Linked DNA regions of Homo sapiens. The protein of the gene in region 5 purifies or fractionates together with the protein of the main gene of each other region. This does not show direct contact. Each region holds a gene or a part of one and is shown on either strand. Other genes may lie near its edges.

Region 1 (3,500 bases), about 36 Mb from region 5:
ACCGCCCTGTACACACAGGGGTTGTCATCTAATCAGGAAGGGAATCTGAGTGCAGCTGGGGAAACTTAACTCTTTGACAACCAGTTCCCGTTTCCATCAGCTGCTCAAGTTCCTGGTGAAACCAATGCCACTGTGTCCTGTGAGGCACTAACCTGGCCCGCCCTGCTGTCTGTCCTCCAGTTCAGTTTTCTTTCCACTGGATAAGTGGCTTTCACCTTCACTGTGCATCTGAGCATTTGGAGGAATTATTATAAAGGTCCTTTCGCTCAGACCTCCTAGTCAAGAGTCTAAGTGGTCGAGCCTATGAATCTAAATTTTTACATGCACCCAGAAGCCCAATCAGGTCTGAGAACACTGCACTTCTCAACAGAGCAGAAGATAAGCAGCAATTTATTCATCTATTTCTACAGAAGCTTCTGTTTATAAAGCACTGGCTACATGCTTTAGTAAGAGATAAAAATATACACAATCTCTAATATCACAAGCTCTCGAAAACAACATCTACCCAGAGTAGAGGTAAACATTGTTTAAAAAGTGTTGGGTGGCAGTGGTTCATGAGGCAGCGTCTAGATGAAATGCAAATGTACAGATCATGACGGTCAGCCTTTAGAGAAAGGAGAGCGCCTCATGGGAGGGATGGTCAGGAAAGGCTTTCTTGGAGGCGTGACTGGCTCCTTGAATATTGAGAATATTGAGAAGGGTAAGAGCAACAGTAGGAGAGTCCTAGGCCCATGAAAGGAATTAGGAGCCTATGGGGCACCTGGGCATTGGTTCCTGGGTGGCAGGTGTGGATCAGGGTCAGATCCCTGTATAGCTATTGGAAACAGAAGTCCGGTTCCCAAATTGATAGAATTACCACAGAGGGCGGTAGGAATATATGGTGGTGGTGATTAACCTTTTTGTATTCTAAAAACTAGTTTGAGCCTGGGTAACATGGCGAAACCCTGTCTACGAAAAATATAAAAATCACCCTGGCATGGTGGCATATCCCTGTAGTCCCAGCTGTTCAGGAGGCTGCGGTGGGAGGATGGCTTAAGCGCAGGAGAACAGAAGTTGCAGTGAGCCGAGATCATGCCTCCGTACTCCAGCCTGGGTGACAAAGCGAGACCTTGTCTCAAAAAAAAAAATTAATTTGAAACTGCTGAGGATATGGACCCTATCCCTAGCAAATACACATCCCCACCAAAGACATGTGTTGACAATTTCTGAGGATACCCCTGAAGCCCCATCCTTGGATCCCACCAGATAAAGAACCCCAGTTCCTCTCTGAGGTCATACAGGCCAATTTGCAATACTGCACATCCTCCCTACTCAAAGGGAGAGAGGTTGAGGGGTGTGCTGGTTCCTTTTGAAACTGCCCCCATGATGTGTTCACTGTGTACTCCTGGTCAGCACTTGGGGAAGTTCCCTCTGCCTGCTTCTTTCTTAGGACTTCTAAAACATCAGCCAGGCCGGGCGTGGTGGCTCACGCCTGTAATCCCAGCAGTTTGGGAGGCCGAGGCAGGTGGATCACCTGAGGTCGGGAGTTCGAGACCAGCCTGGCCAACATGGAGAAACCCTATCTCTACTAAAAAATACAAAATTAGTCAGGTGTGGTGGTGCATGCCTGTAATCCCAGCTACTCAGGAAGCTGAGGCAAGAGAATCACTTGAACCCGGGAGGCGGAGGTTGCGGTGAGCCAAGATCGCACCATTGCACTCCAGCCTGGGCAAAAAGAGTGAAACTCCGTCTCAAGAAAACAAAACAAAATAAAAACATCAGCCAACTGTGGGCATTTTCCTTCACAGATAACTGCGACCTCCACTTCAAGGTGGCCCGAGATCGGAGTAGTGGCTATCCGCTCACAATTGAGGGCTTTGCATACCTGTGGTCAGGAGCCCGTGCCAGCTATGGGGTCAGAAGGGGCCGTGTATGCTTCGAGATGAAGGTGAGTAGGAGCAAGAGAAGGGGAAGGGACAGAGAAGTCCATCCATTGTAATATCCTGATACCAGCCACCTTGGTCAGAGCTGCAACTGCAAAAGAGATTGGATTGTGCAATACCATGTCCAAGCAGACAAAACTGTGATGAACTCAAGACAACTACATCATTGCTAAATATCATATCAGAAAAGCAGGCCAACCATGCATTGCTTCATCAAGCAGATATTTCCTTGGTGAGATTTGACCCAGGTATTATGTAGTCAACCAGTGTAGTGATGACATGTTTGTAGAACTGAGAAAAGAAGTTGTTTGGAAGAAAAGTGATCTAGAAAGAATAGACTCAGATGTCACTTATTAAAGGGAGGCCAGAGGGAGAACAGGGCAAAGAACTGCCAGCTTAGGCCAGCCTCTGCTGTCATCTCTCCACAGTTCCATGTCAAGTTATGTTTATGAAAATAATAGATGCTCATGTTTAACAAAAGTTCAGACAGCACAGAAAAGTACAGGATAAAACAGGTTATTCTCGCCAGGTGTGGTGGCTTTTGCCTGTAATCCCAGCACTTTTGGGAGGCCAAGGCAGGTGGATCACAAGGTCAGGAGTTCAATACCAAACTGGCCAAGATGGTGAAACCCTGTCTACTAAAAATACAAAAAAATTAGCCGGGCATGGTGGCGGGTGCCTGCAATCCTAGCTATTCAGGAGGCTGAGGCAGAGAATTGCTTGAACCCAAGAGGCAGAGGTTGCAGTGAGCCGAGATCACGCCACTGCACTCCAGCCTGGGTGACAGAGTGAGACTCTGTCTCAAAAAAAAAAAACAAAAAAACAAAAACAAAAAAAACAAAACAGGTTATTCTCATGTCCTCTCAGTTCCCATCCTACCATCCTACTCCCTGGAGGGAACTTCTGTGTTAACAATTTCTTACCTGTGGTTTGTGTATCCAAACTTACTGATGATAGCTAATAAGTATAGAGCTCTTTGCATGCACAAGATACAGCACCAAGCTCTTTACATGGATTATCTCCATTAATCCTCACAGTACCATCTGGAAACAGGTACTGTTAGCCCCAGTTTTTAGAGGTAGAAGCTGAAACACAGAGGGTTATATTTTATTGACCACGACACCATTGATGTAAGTTGTGCATTATTTTATGTACCTCTCATAGAGAAACACTGCAACAAAATAAACTACGCAGTGTTTTCTTTTTTTGTTTGTTTGTTTTTTTGTTTTTGAGATGGAGTTTCACTCTTGTTGTCCAGGCTGGAGTGCAGTGGCGCGATCTCGGCTCACTGCAACCTCTGCCTCCCGGGTTCAAGCAATTATCCTGCCTCAGCCTCCCCAGTAGCTGGGATTACAGGCATGTGCCACCCTGCCCGGCTAATTTTTGTATTTTTAGTAGAGATGGGGTTTCTCCATGTTGATCAGGCTGGGCTTGAACTCCTGAGCTCAGGTGATCTGCCTGCCTTGGCCTCCCAAAGTGCTGGGATTACAGGCGTGAGCTGCCGCACCCAGCATACGCAGTGCTTTCTCATCACATTTATTGTAAAATGGATCCTGATTTCAGAGATTTTAAAATGTG
Region 2 (3,500 bases), on a different chromosome or scaffold from region 5:
TGCCACTTAATGTCTGGTCCCTGGACCAGCAGTACTGGCATCACGTGTCTTAGATCCCACCCTAGTCTAATAAGATCCCTATATGATTTGTATGCACATTAGAAGTTTGAGAATACTGGCTTAGAGCACTCTTAAACTTAACTGCACATTGGAAACACCTGAGAGTTTTAAAATAATACTGATGCCTGGGTCTCACTCCAGATACTCCGATTTGATGGTTATTGGTGGTGAGGGGGGCATGGATCAGACATCAATAGTGTTCAGAGCTCCCTAGTTGATTCTGATGTGCAGCAGAGTCTGGGAACTACTGACTTAACATAGTGATGCCACACCTGGCCATGGCTCTGAATCACCTGGGAGGTGCTTACAGGTCCCATCTTGGCTGATCTTGATTCAGTGAGACCTGAAGATCCAAGTTTTTCAGGTTTGTGACTATCTGGCTATATTTATATCTATAGAATAAAGGAATAATGGTCAGGTTTTCTCCTTTGTAAGGAGTCCATGTTTTATAACCCCATGTTTGTGGCTTTACTTCATAAACTGCATCCCCAGACATGAGTCATGCTCTAAGATATGGACCCTTAGGCCTTTTTTTAGACCTTGTTTGAGCAGGTTTCCTGGAGGTAGAGCAGAGCGAAATCACAGTGTCTGTAAGGAGCCCCAGTTAACCCTCTACAGGGCAAGAAAGGGGACACTTGTGGCCAAAATTAGGCTTCTGAAGTGCCTAGTGAAGCATCCACTCTTTAGTACAGTACTCTGAGCATTAATTATGCTTCCTGGCTTCTTTCACACAGCTTCAGATGGTCTGTTGAAGCCTCTCCTGGCTCTAGGCTGAATATCTAGAGTAAAATAATTATTTCAATAAGTAGAAGGAGAATGGCTGGGGAAAAGCCGCTTTCATCTATGAGCTTCTGGAATGGAAAGACAGTGGTGTTAGGAGAAGACTGACTTTCAGGAGAGCTTTTTATGATTTGCATCACGACTGTGATAATGGGAGTGCAGAAAGACACTTCAGACCATTCATGAAAAGGGCTGCTTTTGATAAACATAGCTGTATTTTCTTATTCTTTATGCCTCTTGACTGTAAGCTCCTTGAGGACATGGGAAGATCATATTTATCTTTGTGGCCCCAATGGCTAGCACGAGCCCAGCACGTATAGATGCCCAGTGGGTCTTCACTGAACAAATGCGAGGGTACCCGCAATCCAGGTTGTTACCAAGCCACACTGGCTCAATTCATATAATTAGTTTGGCTCTCTGAAAAGCACCAAGTGAAAAGATAATTTCTCTTTTGTACTGTTAGTGGTCTGTCCTGCTGTCTATAAAACGGGAGCATTTAAATATAAAAAGAGTGGTCTGGTTCTTCAAGCCGAAGCCTCAGAATGTTCCTCTGCTTGCCTGAATTCCTTCTGCTTTAGGATAATATTGGATTTTTCTTTTCTGAATATTTTCCCCCCAACAGGGGAGTAGTCATTAAAAATCCATATCGTGCAGTTCTGTACTGGCAGCTAAAAGCTGATATTTGATGATCTCTGTAGGTGTCACAGGGCTCTGGTGATAAAGCAAGCCACAGAACCAGGGCCAACTTAGACACATTAGACACAGTAGACACAGTGCCTAGGGCCCACAATACTTTTAGAGGCCTCTGCAAAAGTTTTAATTTCTTTTAAAATCAGAAGAAAAAAATGAACTTTTAGGGTCAAAAGTTATATTTGTCTTTATATTGATGCAGTTGTAAAATATAATTTTTAATATTATCTGAAGGAGCAAGGAGCCTACAAAGGCAGAAGCACCTAGGGCTCATGAAAGTTATGACACAGCTCTGCACAGAACTGGTCCCTTGGGAGAGCCACACATAAACATGGCAGGACTGGTGGCAGCATCAGGGTGGTGACTGGTGCTATGCGGAGAGGAGTGAGCTTTCTTTTCTTTCCCTGTCAGTTCACAGGTATGACCCGGCAGGATGCTTTTCTAGCCCTGACTCAGAAAGCCCGGGGGAAGAGAGTGGGTGGAGACGTGACAAGTGATAAACTGAAAGACTGGCTGATTTCACGGCAGCGGTACTGGGGCACACCAATCCCCATTGTCCACTGCCCAGTCTGTGGCCCCACACCTGTGCCCCTGGAGGACTTGCCTGTGACCCTGCCCAACATCGCGTCTTTCACTGGCAAGGGAGGCCCCCCACTGGCCATGGCTTCAGAGTGGGTGAACTGCTCCTGCCCAAGGTAAGGAGCCACATCCCTGCAGTGGTGACTGTGCCTATGGCCCCATACCTGCTAGGGCTTCAGACAGCCTCCTCCCTCCTGGTGCTAACTCTGCTCCCTTTTTCCCTGACTTCCATGAGGCTGGAAAGAACACTGTGGGTCTTTGGGGCCCTTTAAGAGAAGGGTCTGGAATCTGTGGCCCTGCCTCTGCAATGGGCATCCTCCCTTCTCTGAGCTGTTGGAAGCAGCAGTGTCAGTTCAGATCTATCCCAGAAACATCTGATCCAACTGATGGAAAAGCTCTAAATTTTCCTTACAGCTTTGTAAAAAACCACTTTCCTCCATTTTGATATTCCAAAGAGCCACGTGGAGAGGGGAGAAAATGTTCTCTTCTCCACCTTGCAGTTTTCCAATATAGTGACTGTAACAACAGTGGAGATTTTATCATGAGTAGCAGAGTAGTTGCTAAGAGAGCAAGTGTGCTCAGGGCTGCATTCTTTAATATGCTGAAGCACCATGGTTCCTTTCTCCTCATTTTGGAAGTGGGATTATGTTTTTCTGTCTATTCACTGGCATGTCTCAAGCATGATTTTTAATGATGCTGTCCATATCAGCTAATTAAACAAATAGCAGATACCAAGTTCCAGTATTTTCCTTCTTCTGCGGAGAAGCCATTTTTCTCTGCCTTATAGATCATGATGAGGATATTATAAAATAATTTTGTATTCTGCCAGTATAGAGCTGAGTTACTAGGTTGACAATTAGGTAACCACGTAGTGTAATTGGAAGTCTTGAGCTGGGTGTCAAATCAGTGATGGATTCAAGTCCTGGCTCTGCCTCCTAACTAACTGTCTAGCCTTGGGAAAGTCATTTACCTTCTCTGAGCGTGAAATCCCTCATCAGGAACAAAAATAACCCCATTGAAGGGCTTTTCAGAAGACTAGAATTAACACATGTGATCCTGCACAGTGATACCTTCTAGGCCTTCAATAAATAGAAACTTTATGGCCATCCAGCCAGGGACTTGCCAGCCATCCTCCCAGGTCCTCACTGAGGCAGTTTTGAAATTCAAGGTGGAACTTGGAGGGAGGTATATAGGAAGGCCCAGACCATTTTAGGGTAGAAATGTTGGCTCCAGGAGGAAAATAGCACACCCTCTTTGTTGATAAGCGCTGACAAAGGGCTTCCCTACCAGAGATGTTGGTGGCCTGCATACAGCACAGCAGTTGTGGCCTTATTGATGAGGATAAGGTTTCCTGCTTGGCTGCAGAATTACTGGAGGGCAGAACCTAGGCC
Region 3 (3,500 bases), on a different chromosome or scaffold from region 5:
AGGTCGTGGAGATCATTCAGGCCACCATCATCAGGCAGAACCAGGCTCTGCGGCTCAGGGCCCGCAAGGAGTGCTGGGACCGGGACGGCAAGGAGAGGGTGACAGGTGGGGTCACCAAGGGGCGATGATGGTGGGTGGGCAGGAGGGGTCCCCACTGCAGGGGAAGCAGGGGAAGGTTGAGGAAAGCCTCCTGTAGCCCCAGAGAGGCGCTTTCCTGGTATCTTTTGAAAGCTGTTGAGGGCCACCCACTGCTCTTCCTTCCCCACCCCCGCTTCATGCTGTTTCCACTTGGGCTGGAAAATGTGACCATGACCATGCGGATGTGGCTTTTCCTTCCCTCACCTTCACCATGAGCTGTGGGCAGTGGCCATGACTTACCTGATTCTGGATCAACAAAGAAGATGTTCAAATACAATTGACAAATGTAGGCCAATAGGTACAGTGGCTCACACCTGTCATCCCAGCACTTTGCCAAGGTGGGTGAATCGTCTGAGCCCAGGAGCTTAAGACCAGCCTGAGCAACACAGTGAGACCCCATCTCTACAGAGAATTTAAAAATTAGCCTGGCCTTGGACACACACCTGTGGTCCCAGCTACTCAGAAGGCTGAAGGGGGAGAATTTCTTGAGCCCAGGATGTGGAGGCTGCAGTGAGCTGTGACTGCACCACTGCACTCCATCCTGGGCCACAGAGGTACTACCCCGAGGTGCTACCATTCCCACTTTTTTTTTTTTTTTGAGACGGAGTCTTGCTTTCTTGCTGTTGCCCAGGTTGGAGTGCAGTGGCGCGATCTCGGCTCACTGCAAGCTCCGCCTCCTGGGTTCACACCATTCTCCTGCCTCAGCCTCCTGAGTAGCTGGGACTACAGGCGCCCACCACCATGCCCAGCTAATTTTTTTTTTTTTTGTATTTTTTTTTTTTTTTTTTTTAGTAGAGACAGGGTTTCACCATGTTAGCCAGGGTGGTCTTGATCTCCTGACCTCGTGATCCACCAGGTTCGGCCTCCCAAAGTGCTGGGATTACAGGCGTGAACCACCGCACCCGGCCATTCCCACTTTCTATATATCAAAACTGGGATGCAGAATGCAGGTTGCTTGCCCTGGGGTGTGGCCAGGCAGGGCGAGGCTGGGACCTGCATCCAGGCACTCTGGCTTCTCCAGTAAACCAAAGGACATCCACAACTCTAACAGAGGCAGTTCTGCTGCCTGTTTTAGCAGAAGGACAAAAGTTGGTCTTTGGAGCTTAGAGAAGGCAGAACAGGCTGTTGGCATAGCAGCAACTTGGGCATCTTAGGAGGCCAAGGTGGGCGGATCACTTGAGGCCAGGAGTTCCAGACTAGCTTGGGCAACATGGTGAAACACCATCTCTACAAAAAATACAAATATTAGCCGGGCGTGGTGGCACGTGCCTGTAATCCCAGCTACTCAGGAGGCTGAGGCATGAGAATCACTTGAATCCAGGAGGCTGAGGTTGCAGTGAGCTGAGATCACAGCCTGGGCAACAGAGGGAGACTCCGTCTCAAAAAAAAAAAAAAAAAAAAAAAAACTTTTAAAATTCAACTGGGGTGGGGGTTTGGCCTCAAAAGAATGAATAAGAGGACCGCAGTCAGGAACTTGAGCCTGGGGTCAGTGCTATCTTTTTGCCTATGAAATCTGTCAATCCCCTGTGTCTAAGCTGTGGGGGAGGGGTAGGTGGGGAGCAGGCTGGGGGGCCCTTGTCCCTTACCCTCCACTCTTGGCCCAGGGGAAGAATGGCTGGTCACCACAGTAGGGGCGTACCTCCCAGCGGTGTTTGAGGAGGTTCTGGATTTGGTGGACGCCGTCATCCTTACGGAAAAGGTTGGTGCTCTGGGGGCTGTGGTTTAAGGGACCTGGGGCTAGGGAACCCTCCGAGTGGCAGAGAATGGTGGTAGAATGGCATGAGAGTAAAAGAGAAGCAATAATTTTAGGGTCACTTAAAAAAATTCAGAGATCAGATTGCCTGAGTATTCTGGATCATCTGAAGGGTTAAATAGTCTTTCTGGGGCTGGGCGCAATGACTCACATCTGTAATCTCAGCAATTTGGAAGGCTGAGGCAGGAGGATCACTTGAGGCCAGGAGTCTGAGACCAGCCTGGGCAACACAGTGAGAACTCATCGCTACAAAAAATTTAAAAATTAGCTGGGTGTAGTGGAGCATGCCTGTAATTCCAGTTACTCCAGAGGCGCTGAGGCAGGAGAATCGCTTGAACCCCAGAGGCAGAGGTTACAGTGAGCCATGATCATGCCACTGTGCTCCAGCCTGGGCAACAGAGCGAAACCCTGTCTCAAAAAAAAAAAAAAAAAACAAAGCCGGTCGGGTGCAGTGGCTCATGCCTGTAATCCTAGCATTTTGGGAGGCTGAGGTGGGAGGATCACCTGAGGTCAGGAGTTCAAGACAAACCTGGCCAACATGGCGAAACCCCATCTCTACTAAAAATACAAAAATTAGCTGGGCATGGTGTCACCCACCTGTAATCCCAGCTGTACTCAGGAGGCTGAGGCAGGAGAATCGCTTGAACCTAGGAGGCGGAAGTTGCAGTGAGCTGAGATCGCACCTTTGCACTCTAGCCTGGGCAACAAGAGAGAGACTCCGATTTAAAAAAAAAAAAAAACAATCCCTGGATTGGTAGAAATTGTCTCTGAGATCTGGGAGCATTGGGAGCATTTGGTGGCCAATGGGGCTCGCAGATCCCCTGAAGTTGGAGGCAGGTCACTCAAATACCCAACATGTTGCTCTGCAGACAGCCCTGCACCTCCGGGCTCGGCGGAACTTCCGGGACTTCAGGGGAGTGTCCCGCCGCACTGGGGAGGAGTGGCTGGTAACAGTGCAGGACACAGAGGCCCACGTGCCAGATGTCCACGAGGAGGTGCTGGGGGTTGTGCCCATCACCACCCTGGGCCCCCACAACTACTGCGTGATTCTCGACCCTGTCGGACCGGATGGCAAGAATCAGCTGGGGCAGAAGCGCGTGGTCAAGGTGAGGTCCCTACACCCCCACAGAGGACTGCCCTGGGAGATGTATGTCCTCTAGTGGCATGAGGCCCTCTGCCTTCTCTCCTCCAGACGCACGTTCTAGGAACACCTTCTGTGCCTTTGCATGCTTAGTTCTTACACACCTGAGACACTGGCCCATTTGATTCCTGGCAGCCTCTGACTTACCCCTCAGACCTGAAGTTAATTCCCCTTCTGGGAAGGCCTCCTGGCTACCCGCTGCCTGAGACTCTGAAACTCTGATACAGTCATGCGCCACTTAATGATGGGGATACATTCTGAGAAATAGTCCTTAGATGATTTTGTCTTTGTGCAAAAGAGTGCACTTATGCAAACCTAGATGGCACCTAGTCTAGATGGCGTAGCCTGCCCCTAGGCTGCCAACCTGTGCAGCATGTGACTGTCCTGAATACTGCAGGCAGCTGAACACAATGGCAAGTACTTGTGTATCTAGCCATAGAAAAGGTAAGGTAAAAATACAATATAAAA
Region 4 (3,500 bases), on a different chromosome or scaffold from region 5:
TATTTTGAGACAGAGTCTCGCTCTGTCGCCCGGGCTGGAGGCAGTGGTGCGATCTCAGCTCACTGTAACCTCTGCCTCCCAGGTTCAAGTGATTCCCCTGCCTCAGCCTCCTGAGTAACTGGGACTACAGGCATCCACCACCACGCCTGGCTAATTTTTGTATTTATAGTAGAGACGGGATTTCACCGTGTTGGCCAGTATGGTCTCGATTTCCTGACCTTGTGATCCACCTGCCTTGGCCTCCCAAAGTGCTGGGATTACAGGCACCTGCCACCTTGCCTGGCTAGTTTTTGTATTTTTAATAGAGATGGGGTTTTACCATGTTGGCCAGGCTGATCTGGAACTCCTGACCTCAGGTGATCTGCCCACCTCAGCTTCCCAAAGTGCTGGGATTACAGGCGCCTGCCACCTTGCCTGGTTAGTTTTTGTATTTTTAATAGAGATGGGGTTTCACAGTGTTGGCCAGGCTGATCTGGAACTCCTGACCTCCAGTGATCTGCCCGCCTCGGCCTCGCAGATGTCCTTGCCTTTTGTTTCTTCTCTATACCTTGAAAGTCTGTGCTGTGTTAAGGGCGTCATGCTCAGGCTTACTGATTCTGAAGGGGTTATCAGTGGATGATTCCGGATGTTGTGGAATATCAAACAGATCGAAAAGTTTCTTTAATAATAGTGATGGCACCTTGTGTTTAGAGTTCGCAGTGGCATTTACCAGATGCTCTCTGGCCACCTTCATGTGAACCTCCCAGCTGACTCGGGCCTGCTTTATCTGCCATCAGATTGTAATGGCAGCTTTGTGGAGGCCGCCCTGTAGATTATGCGATTAATGACCACATTCATGTGAGCAATAGTGCTGGCTTAGTTTTTTTCCAGTTAGGTTGTTTGGAATGGTAGCTGCATACCTGAGGGCAGTGCAGCAATGCCTTAGTTACGAAGGCAGTTTGCATTCCACAGGTAGAGTCTTTCCTTATGGCCAGGGCACTGATCCCTCACATACCAGAAAGTATCATTCGTCCCTGCCCCAGACAGACTCCAGATGCGTCCCAGTGGTGGTTCTTGGGATAGTTTTGTAGGAATTTCTGCAGAATTTTAGTGTTCAGATGAGTATGCTCTGTCTGTGGACTGGAGACAGGCTTCAAAGAATTCTCAAATTATTCTGCACAATACATCATTTTTTGGTATCTCTGCAGTTCCAAAGGTAACTACTTGAGGGACAGTGGCCACCAAAGAGCACAAGTTTTGACATTTTGATGAAAAGCACACATAAAACAAATAAAAACCACCTTTCCTTAAGTTACCTATTGAATTGTGCTTATTCCCATAAATGCATGTTCATCTGTTTGCTTAATAAAACTTAAAGCACCATAGAGTCTTTCTTGTTTCCTAGAATAAGGTCTTTTTTCTTTTCCTTTCTTGTCTTTTTTTGTTGTTGTTGTTGTTGAGACGGAGTCTCGCTTTGTTGCCCAGGCTGGAAGTGCCCTGTGGTGTGATCTTGGCTCACTGCAGGCTGCGCCTCCCGAGTTCATGCCATTCTCCTGCCTCAGCCTCCCAAGTAGCTGGGACTACAGGCGCCCGCCGCCACACTTGGCTAATGTTTTGTATTTTTAGTAGAGACGGGGTTTCACTATGTTAGCCAGGATGGTCTTGATCTCCTGACCTTCGTGATCTGCCCGCCTCTGCCTCCCAAAGTGCTGGGATTACAGGCGTGAGCCACCGTGCCTGGCCGGTCTTTTTTATTTTCAATTAAAAAAAAATATATATATATATGTATTTTTAAACAGAGATGGGATTCCGCCATGTTTGCCAGGCTGGTCTCAAACCCCTGGCCTCAAGTGATCCTCCCATCTCGGGTTCCCAAAGTGCTAGGATTACAGGTGTGAGCTACCACACCTGGCCTATTTTCAATCCTAAAAAAATCATTTGCGTGTTTCTTGATTTTAGGCACTGAACTAGACGGAGATGAGAATATAGAAATAATAAAATGGGGCTGGGCGCTGTGGCTCACACCTGTAATCCCAGCACTATGGGAAGTAAAGGAGCAGATCACTTCAGGTCAGGAGTTCGAGACCAGCCTGGCCAACATGGTGAAACCCCATCTCTGCTGAAAATACAAAAATTAGTCGGGTATGGTGGCGTGCGCCTATAATCTCAGCTACTCGGGAGGCTGAGGCAGGAGAATCACTAGAACCCGGGAGGCAGAGGCTGCAGTGAGCCGAGATTGTGCCACTGCACTCCAGCCTTGGGTGACAGAGCAAGACTCTGTCTCAAAAAAAAAAAAAAAAAAAAATAGAAAAAATAAAATGATGTCTCAACTATCAAAGACCTCGCAAGAAGCCTTAAAAATGATAAATAAGGCTAGAGATTTTGCTGTACCTTTGGAAAGTGCATGTGTGGTGGTTTATAGTACATATTCTGTGGCCAGATAAAATTTATATGATTATTTTTCCTCCCAAGAATATGAGATGACAGAGGGGGAGGAGCGTGGATGGAGACTAGGAGCCTTGGGCTCTTGTCCAGCCTTTCCCTGACCAACCCTGAGGTCTGGGACAATCAGCACAGAACTCCAGGTCTCAGTTTTCATATTTGTAAAATGAAGGACTTAGAGGACCTTCACCTTTTGCAAATCTGATAGCAACTGTGACCCCTTCCCACGAAGGGGGACAGCTTCATAGGCGTGGACCCAGATTAAGAACTGGATTATTCCATCTCTAAGCTCCCTCTCACCTGTGATATTCTGTAATCCTATTTTCCTGGTCATCTTTGAGCTAATAATAATGATGACTTGTATTTATAGAAGATGCACATTCCAAAGCACTTTCACCTCTCATTCTTTTGTCCTCAAAACATTTCTGAGTGGTACAGGTGGCAATAGATATTCCTTCCTGTGATGAAGAAAGTGGGCCAGGCTTGGTCAGCACGTTGATGGAGCAAACAGCCAGAGGCCGTCCTGGGACCAGAACTGGGGCTCCTGGTTGCCATCCTGGGGCTTTTCCATTAGGTTTTGCTTCCTTGGTGGTTGTCATTATGAGTTATGTTTGGCAGTTCAAATATCCCAGAATGTGTCACTCGTAGAGGAAACTATTTGTTCATCTGCCGGAAAGGACTGTTTTTCTCTCTGAATTTGGATCACTAAACACCTTTTCTGTATGTGAAAAGGCTACTTATTTGTTTTTGTTATTTTTTCTTGCCACATTTTTCATAGGGACAGTTTGTAGGGCTTGAGTGTTTTGAGCAGACTTATTTAATGCTTATTGATGAAAGAGTACATTAAAATGACTACTTCTCAGTTGCTTAGCACTTGAGAAAGTTGTGAAATAAATGTTAAGTAAAAATTCCAAATGTCTCACTTGTCCTATCCAAGTATGTCCTCACAGATGAGATGCTTTCTGCAGTCTAGGAGGCCCCTCCCTGGGCCCAGAGCCGCTGGGTGGGTTTGAAAGTTGGGTGTGGATTGTGCCAGTGGCCAGGACTGTCCAACAGTGGCTGCTTGTGGCCTTCTGGCT
Region 5 (2,639 bases):
CAATGATGGGAGACCACCGGGATGGGCAGGTGAGTAGAGCCCCGATGCCAAGCCCTGGGGCCACTGTACTGCTGTGCAGGCATAGCGGACCATTTCTAGCCAGGCGGCCGCTTGATCCCAGAGAGGTGGCAACCAAGTCAGCACGTGTGGCGGGTATGCAAGTGTGGGTTCTGGCCAGCGACTAGAAGTACAAATATTTAGTCGGACGTGGTGGCTCATGCCTGTAATCCCAGCACTTTGGGAAGCTGAGGTGGGTGGATCACAAGGTCAGGAGTTCAAGACCAGCCTGGCCGACATGGTGAAACCCTGTCTCTACTAAAAATACAAAAAATTAGCCAGGCATGGTGGCGAGTGCCTGTAGTCCCAGCTACTCGGGAGGCTGAGGCAGGAGAATCGCTTGAACCCGGGAGGCGGAGGTTGCAGTGAGTCGAGGTCGCACCATTGCACTCCAGCCTGGGCAACAAGAGCAAGACTCCGTCTCAAAAAAAAAAAAAAAAAAAAAAAGCGCAAATATTTGATTGTTTTGTAATGCTCAAGTTTCTGTCATTTTCAAATATGTTGGGCTTGTTCTTCATTGTATCCGGTAGAAACCTCATGTGTCTCTTCATTGTCCACTTGCTCAGGGAGCCTTTGGGTCTTAGTGCCTGTGGGGTCCCCCAAGAACCCAAATGGTGGTTGTCGTTTAGCCCACATGTGCCAGGGTCGGGGGGATGGGGGAGCCCGGGCTTCCCCATGTTTCAAGTCCGTGCTTGGTGGGCACGGGGGGCTGAAGACCACAAGAATGGTCCCTGAGTCTCTGTGGTGCCATGCGGGTGCCCCGTGCGTGGTGGCAGGGTGTGAGTTCTGAGAAAGCAGCAGCCTGGTGGAGAGGTGGGAGGTGGGCGGCAGAGTAATGGCCTGTAACAGCAGGCAGCACCCGCCTGCTTCCTGGCTGCTGGCTGCTCCGTGCAGAGTTGGTTGGCCAGGGAGGCCGGAATTGTGGCCCTGCCAGAGCACAGGGGGGCTGACCCACCCGAGGGCCCTCCTGTTATCGGAAAGGAGGCGGCGCCCAACTTCTCAGGGAAGACAGGGTTTGGTGACGTCTTAGTGGATCTTGAGCAGAGCTGTTGAGGGCAGTAATGCCAGGGTGCCCTGGCTCCTGGGGCAGCTCAGGTGGGGCAGTGATGCAGCTGTAGGGGTGCGAGGAGGGGAGCCAGGGAGCAGAGGGTCAGTGAAGCAGGGCCCAGCAGGGCTGAGACTGCACCCTTCAGTCCTCTCTCAGCTCCGCCCCACCTGCCACCCTGGGGCCTGCAGTGGACAGGCCTTCCGGAAGGTGGGCCTATGTGGGTGACATGGTCAGTGTCACCCTGTTCCTCTCCTGCCTTCCAGCACTATGGAGATGACCGCCATGGCCACGGAGGACCCCCAGAGCGCCACGGCCGGGACTCCCGTGATGGCTGGGGGGGCTACGGCTCCGACAAGAGGCTGAGTGAAGGCCGGGGGCTGCCCCCTCCCCCCAGGTTAGTGGGTGAGCCCCAGCCGGGTGGGGAGCATCTGTCCTAACCTGGGAAAAGGTTGGTGCCTGGCCAGGCACGTCCCCAAGGTTTGATTCAGCTAGGGGAGCTTTAGGATGGGCTACCAGGGGTCCTGCCATTTGAAACCCCTGACTCAGAAAGTCCAGGTTCTCAAGAAGAAAGCATAGAACAGGCTTTCAGGGATGGAGCTGTCCAGGTCGCCCAGAATGGCCCATCCCCATTCTTGAGCTGGGGGTCGCCTGCAGTTGTGAATGTCTCGATCATGGGCTGCGTACACACTGGGAGAGACAGCGCTGAAGCTCTTAGTCCTGCCCCGTCCGTGGTAGAGCAGCCTCGCCCCTGCCTCCACGTTGCCTCTTGACACGTGTCTTCCTCGGGTTTTTTCTCTGACCCCCAGTTGGTCTGGGGTGGATCTTCTCAACCCTATCCTGCCTATTAGAATCACTTAGGAGGACCCTCCACCCAGGACTCAGGGCTGAGGACACTGGGCCAGGTCCTCCACAGGTGTCCAAAGCCACCTTCACCAGCACTGCAGTGGGGGTGCTGTTCTGAGCCTTGTCAGCATTGGTGGGGGGCAGGGCTTGTCTGGGAGGACTCTGGGTGCCTCTCTAGTTTCTTTGGCCAGCTGCAGTCACCCCTGCCTGTTTGTCCTGTTGCCGTCTGGGCTGGCCGTGAGGAGGCTGGTGGCAGGACTGCTTTGCGGCTGCTGCCCTGCTTTCCTCTGTGAGCCGAGTGTCCTGTCTTGTCTCCAGCCCTGGCCCAGGGCTGCCTCGGACCCTGCCCAGCGCCACAGGGTGGGTTTTGGCCCCCTGTGCTCCCCCGTTCCATCCCTCCCTCCGCGCTGAGAGGCACTTCCAGCTCTGCCAGGGACTTTGACTCGGTGCTGTGCCGAGTGTCCCAGGACACCCGAAGCTTCTCCTGAATCTCTGGGCAGCACAGACGGTGGCAGTGCTCTGATCAGTTGGTGTGAAGTGTTCTCTCCTGTGAGACTTCATTAGCATTCCTGTCCTGTCGCTTGCTGGGTGTTATGGTAAATACCTCGGGAGTGTAAACGGGAAACTCACCCATGGTGAGCAGCGGCTGGGCGCCATCGGGTCACCGAGGGCAGGTTCCACACGGGAGCTT
Region 6 (3,500 bases), 340 kb from region 5:
GAACTCCTGGTACCGTCTTTGGGAAAGTGGGGAAGAGGCTTCCCCTCCCGCCCCACACACACACAGAGTCTCAGACTGGTTACAGGCCTCGGGATTCGTTTATCAGTTTAAGCGAATCCTCTAAGCAGGCTCCGCCAGGTCATAGACATACCCTGTAGTCAGAAACATTTTGCTGTTTGCCTGCCCCATCTCAGGTGACTCTGTGGGCTCCACCCACCCGGGATTAGCACCAGTCGGTGTGAGCAGGGGGCACACAGCGCAGAAAGCCAAGAGCCAGGGAGTGTTTCTGCTGGACGGGATGCAGGCGGCCCCAGTGGGGCTGGGGATTAGCCCATCCTCTGAGGACTTCCAGGTCGCCAAACACGTTGTGTGTTTAATTTTAAAAAGCCACGTTCACTCTTGCACAGGCACAAGGATGCAGCGTGAAGTCAGCAGTAGCAGAATTTCTAGGGAGCACAGTAGAGAAACATTTACACTTTTCACTTCCTTCACAGTTGGACCAGAAAGTGCCCTCAGCGCTGTGATCCGCTGATTCTGGGCCTGGCATTGTAACTCCAGGCTTCCCTGCCCGCTGGACACGCTGAGCCAGTCAGAAGCTGCCTGCAGCCTTTCTCACCTCCGAGTTCACGGTTGTCAGGTCCCTTCACGACATCTCCCAGGAAAACACTCCCTGCCTCACGTTCATGTCCACTGTACACATCGCCAGAGACTCCAAAGATCTGCCAAAAGCCTTTTAAAATTTCTTTTCAAATTCTACAACACCTTTTTCATCATGTGGTATAGGAAAGACATATACAAATTACTAGCAACTCCATATTCCATTATCTCAAGATAAATGCATTTGGTCTTAGGATATTTAGTTACAAAAAAGTCATGCCTACATGTTGAAAATATTTACACAAAATGGAAATCCTAGAAAGTAACAAGCAGGAGCCACCCTCCAGCTAAGAGGTTCCCGGGTAACCTCCGTCAGTAGTTTGAATTCTCTCTCCCGACTTATTTTCCTGGGCATTCCTCAACACACATACACACCACACATACACACACACACACACCACACACACGGGACTGGATTGGCTTTAACAGAAATGGAATCGCACTTCCGTGTCCCACAAGCTGCTCTCTTCTCTGATCCATGTATTGTGGGCATGTCAGAGGCCTACCTCCCTCTCGGTGGTAATAGCTGTGCTGTACTTTTTTTCCCCCATATTTTCTATTGTAAATTATTTCATTCCTTGGCCAATGATGAGCAACCAGGTTATTTCCTGTCCTCTGCCGGCACTAAGGCTTCTGCAGGGCACAGGTGTTTCTTGTTGTTTGGAGACAGGTTTTTGCTCTGTCACCCAGGCTGGAGTGCAGTGGTGTGATCTCAGCTCACTACAACTCCCAGGCTCAAGCAGTCCTCCTGTCTCAGCCTTCTGAGTAGCTGGGAGTGCAGGCACATGCAGAGGAGACGTGTGGAGTACATGATCTGGTGTGGGATTGCTGGGCATCCGTCTGGGCCAAGTGTGGCACTGGTTTTGATTACTCTGTTTTGTTTTGGTTTTTGATAGGAGAAAGAGCCCCAGAAAAATGAGTCCAGCAATGCCTCTGAAGAGGAAGCCTGTGAGAAAAAAGACCCCGCCACACAGCAAGCCTTTGTATTTGGGCAGAACTTGAGGGACAGAGTTAAGGTATGTGAGCTGTTGAACCAGCACATTGACTTTTTATGCCTTCCCCAGGTTCAACAGCAGGCAAGTAGGTAGATTTTCCTTTTAACAGGGGAGGGGAGCGTGGGACAAAGAAGGTGTTAGCGAGGCAGCCCCATGGCTCACGGCACAGTCTGCTGCTGGTGTGCGTGTGCTGGGCCCTGGCACTTCCCCACCAGCAGCCCAGGCTTCGGAGCCCTCACCTGCAGTGACTTCTCAAGTCAGGGTCCCTGGTTCTCATGGTAGCGGGGACAGGGAAGGTGACTGAACCTGAGGCCTCAGGCTTTCATAGCAGAGAAGAAAGACAGCACGGTCCAGTGTTCTCAGCTCTGCCCAGAGGTTTCTGTTCCCGTATTTCAGGGTTTCTCTGTTTCAGCACTAGCAGCATTACGGCTGGACCATTCTTAGTTTCTGAGGAGTCGCCCTGGGCACTGCAGGGTGCTGAGCAGCATCACTGGCCTCCACCCACCCAATGCTCCTGACATCTGACAACCACAAATGTCCCCAGACGTGGCCAGTATTCCCTGTGGAGTAGAATCGCCCCCATTAAGAACTGTCACCTTATTTTTTTTTAAGTGGGGCAGGGTGGGGTGACAACACTGTCTTCTCTCCTGAAAGGGAGCAAAGCGTCTGCCACCTCTTGGCTGCCCTCCAGACATGTGGTCCTAGTTTGGAGATTGTGTGGTGGGGAAGGGATGGCAGTGGTTGGAAACAGTGGCCCTGGACCATGCACTGGGACTCTAGGAAGACCAGGGTCAGCCAGCACCACCTTTCCCAGCCACAGACATGGAATGTGCTACGGCATCTCTAGCAGCTCCACTGGCAAGAAGCTTCTTTCAAAGCTCGAGAGGCGGTATCGGTGGCTGTGTCTAGAGACTTTTGTGGTTGTCACAACTGGGAGGTACTTCTGGAGGTCAGGGATGCCACTCCGCCCCTTGCAGTGCCCAGGATAGCCACACCACAGGGAATGTTCTGGGCCCAGTGTCAACATGTCAGTAGTGTCGACGGGGAGGGCCCTGAAATAAACAAAAACCTCTCTAGCATGCAGAAAGCACCGGCTTGTGTTTTCTGCTTTCCTTTCTGTTACTCACCGTCCAACAGAAGCCCAAGTCGAGAAACGTGGAAAGTTGATGTTGCTGTTGCCATGGCTTTAGGCAAAATAATGAGTCCCTCAGGGGCTGTTCCCTCCAAGGAGGGAGGGCAAGAGGCGGGGAAGGGCTTGGCCTGTGGAGTTCAGGCCCTGTGGAATCTCTGCCTTGAGTCTGGGGAGACAGCTGCTTTGAATTTGGTGGGGTTGGCTTCTTGCAGAAGTCAGAGGCTTACGTGCACTTCGCAGTCTCAGTCAAATCCCAGCCTCTCCTTCCAGGGCAAACTTGAGCCATGGATTCTTTTTTTTTCTTTGGACACGAAGTCTTGCTGTGTCGCCCAGGCTGGAGTGCAGTGGCATGATCTCTGCTCACTGCAACCTCCACCTCCTGGGTTCAAGCGATTCTCCTGCCTCAGCCTCCCAAATATCTGGGATTACAGGCGCCCACTGCCACATCCAGCTAATTTTTTGTATTTTTAGTAGAGGTGGGGATTTCTCCATGTTGGCCAGGCTGGTCTCGAATTCCTGACCTCAAGTGATTCCCCGCCGCCTCAGCCTCCCAAAGTGCTGGTATTACAGGCACGAGCCACCGCGCCCAGCCAGAGCCATGGTTTCTTAACCCTCTGAGCCTCTGCTTCCTTGTTGGTCAAACAGGGTCCCTAACATCCCCCTCCCAGGCCTCGTGAGGATTAAAGCAGATCGTGCATTTGACAGACTCAGCATAG

Evidence for each region.
Region 1: the proteins of SAFB2 (region 5) and HNRNPUL1 fractionate together in Homo sapiens (co-fractionation; one large-scale study listed by BioGRID). This does not show direct contact.
Region 2: the proteins of SAFB2 (region 5) and LARS2 purify together in Homo sapiens (co-immunoprecipitation; one large-scale study listed by IntAct). This does not show direct contact.
Region 3: the proteins of SAFB2 (region 5) and MVP purify together in Homo sapiens (co-immunoprecipitation; one large-scale study listed by IntAct). This does not show direct contact.
Region 4: the proteins of SAFB2 (region 5) and PACSIN2 fractionate together in Homo sapiens (co-fractionation; one large-scale study listed by BioGRID). This does not show direct contact.
Region 6: the proteins of SAFB2 (region 5) and RANBP3 fractionate together in Homo sapiens (co-fractionation; one large-scale study listed by BioGRID). This does not show direct contact.

Annotation. Positions count from the first base shown.
Region 1 is NC_000019.10:41,274,372-41,277,871, forward strand, and holds part of HNRNPUL1 (heterogeneous nuclear ribonucleoprotein U-like protein 1), read left to right. Parts: intron 1-1,787; coding exon 1,788-1,927; intron 1,928-3,500.
Region 2 is NC_000003.12:45,489,576-45,493,075, forward strand, and holds part of LARS2 (leucine--tRNA ligase, mitochondrial), read left to right. Parts: intron 1-1,941; coding exon 1,942-2,225; intron 2,226-3,500.
Region 3 is NC_000016.10:29,833,962-29,837,461, forward strand, and holds part of MVP (major vault protein), read left to right. Parts: coding exon 1-105; intron 106-1,742; coding exon 1,743-1,837; intron 1,838-2,760; coding exon 2,761-2,997; intron 2,998-3,500. UniProt on the Homo sapiens protein: Required for normal vault structure. Vaults are multi-subunit structures that may act as scaffolds for proteins involved in signal transduction. Vaults may also play a role in nucleo-cytoplasmic transport.
Region 4 is NC_000022.11:43,008,650-43,012,149, reverse strand, and holds part of PACSIN2 (protein kinase C and casein kinase substrate in neurons protein 2), read left to right. Parts: intron 1-3,500.
Region 5 is NC_000019.10:5,589,138-5,591,776, reverse strand, and holds part of SAFB2 (scaffold attachment factor B2), read left to right. Parts: coding exon 1-29; intron 30-1,368; coding exon 1,369-1,499; intron 1,500-2,639. UniProt on the Homo sapiens protein: Binds to scaffold/matrix attachment region (S/MAR) DNA. Can function as an estrogen receptor corepressor and can also inhibit cell proliferation.
Region 6 is NC_000019.10:5,926,141-5,929,640, reverse strand, and holds part of RANBP3 (ran-binding protein 3), read left to right. Parts: intron 1-1,553; coding exon 1,554-1,673; intron 1,674-3,500. UniProt on the Homo sapiens protein: Acts as a cofactor for XPO1/CRM1-mediated nuclear export, perhaps as export complex scaffolding protein. Bound to XPO1/CRM1, stabilizes the XPO1/CRM1-cargo interaction. In the absence of Ran-bound GTP prevents binding of XPO1/CRM1 to the nuclear pore complex.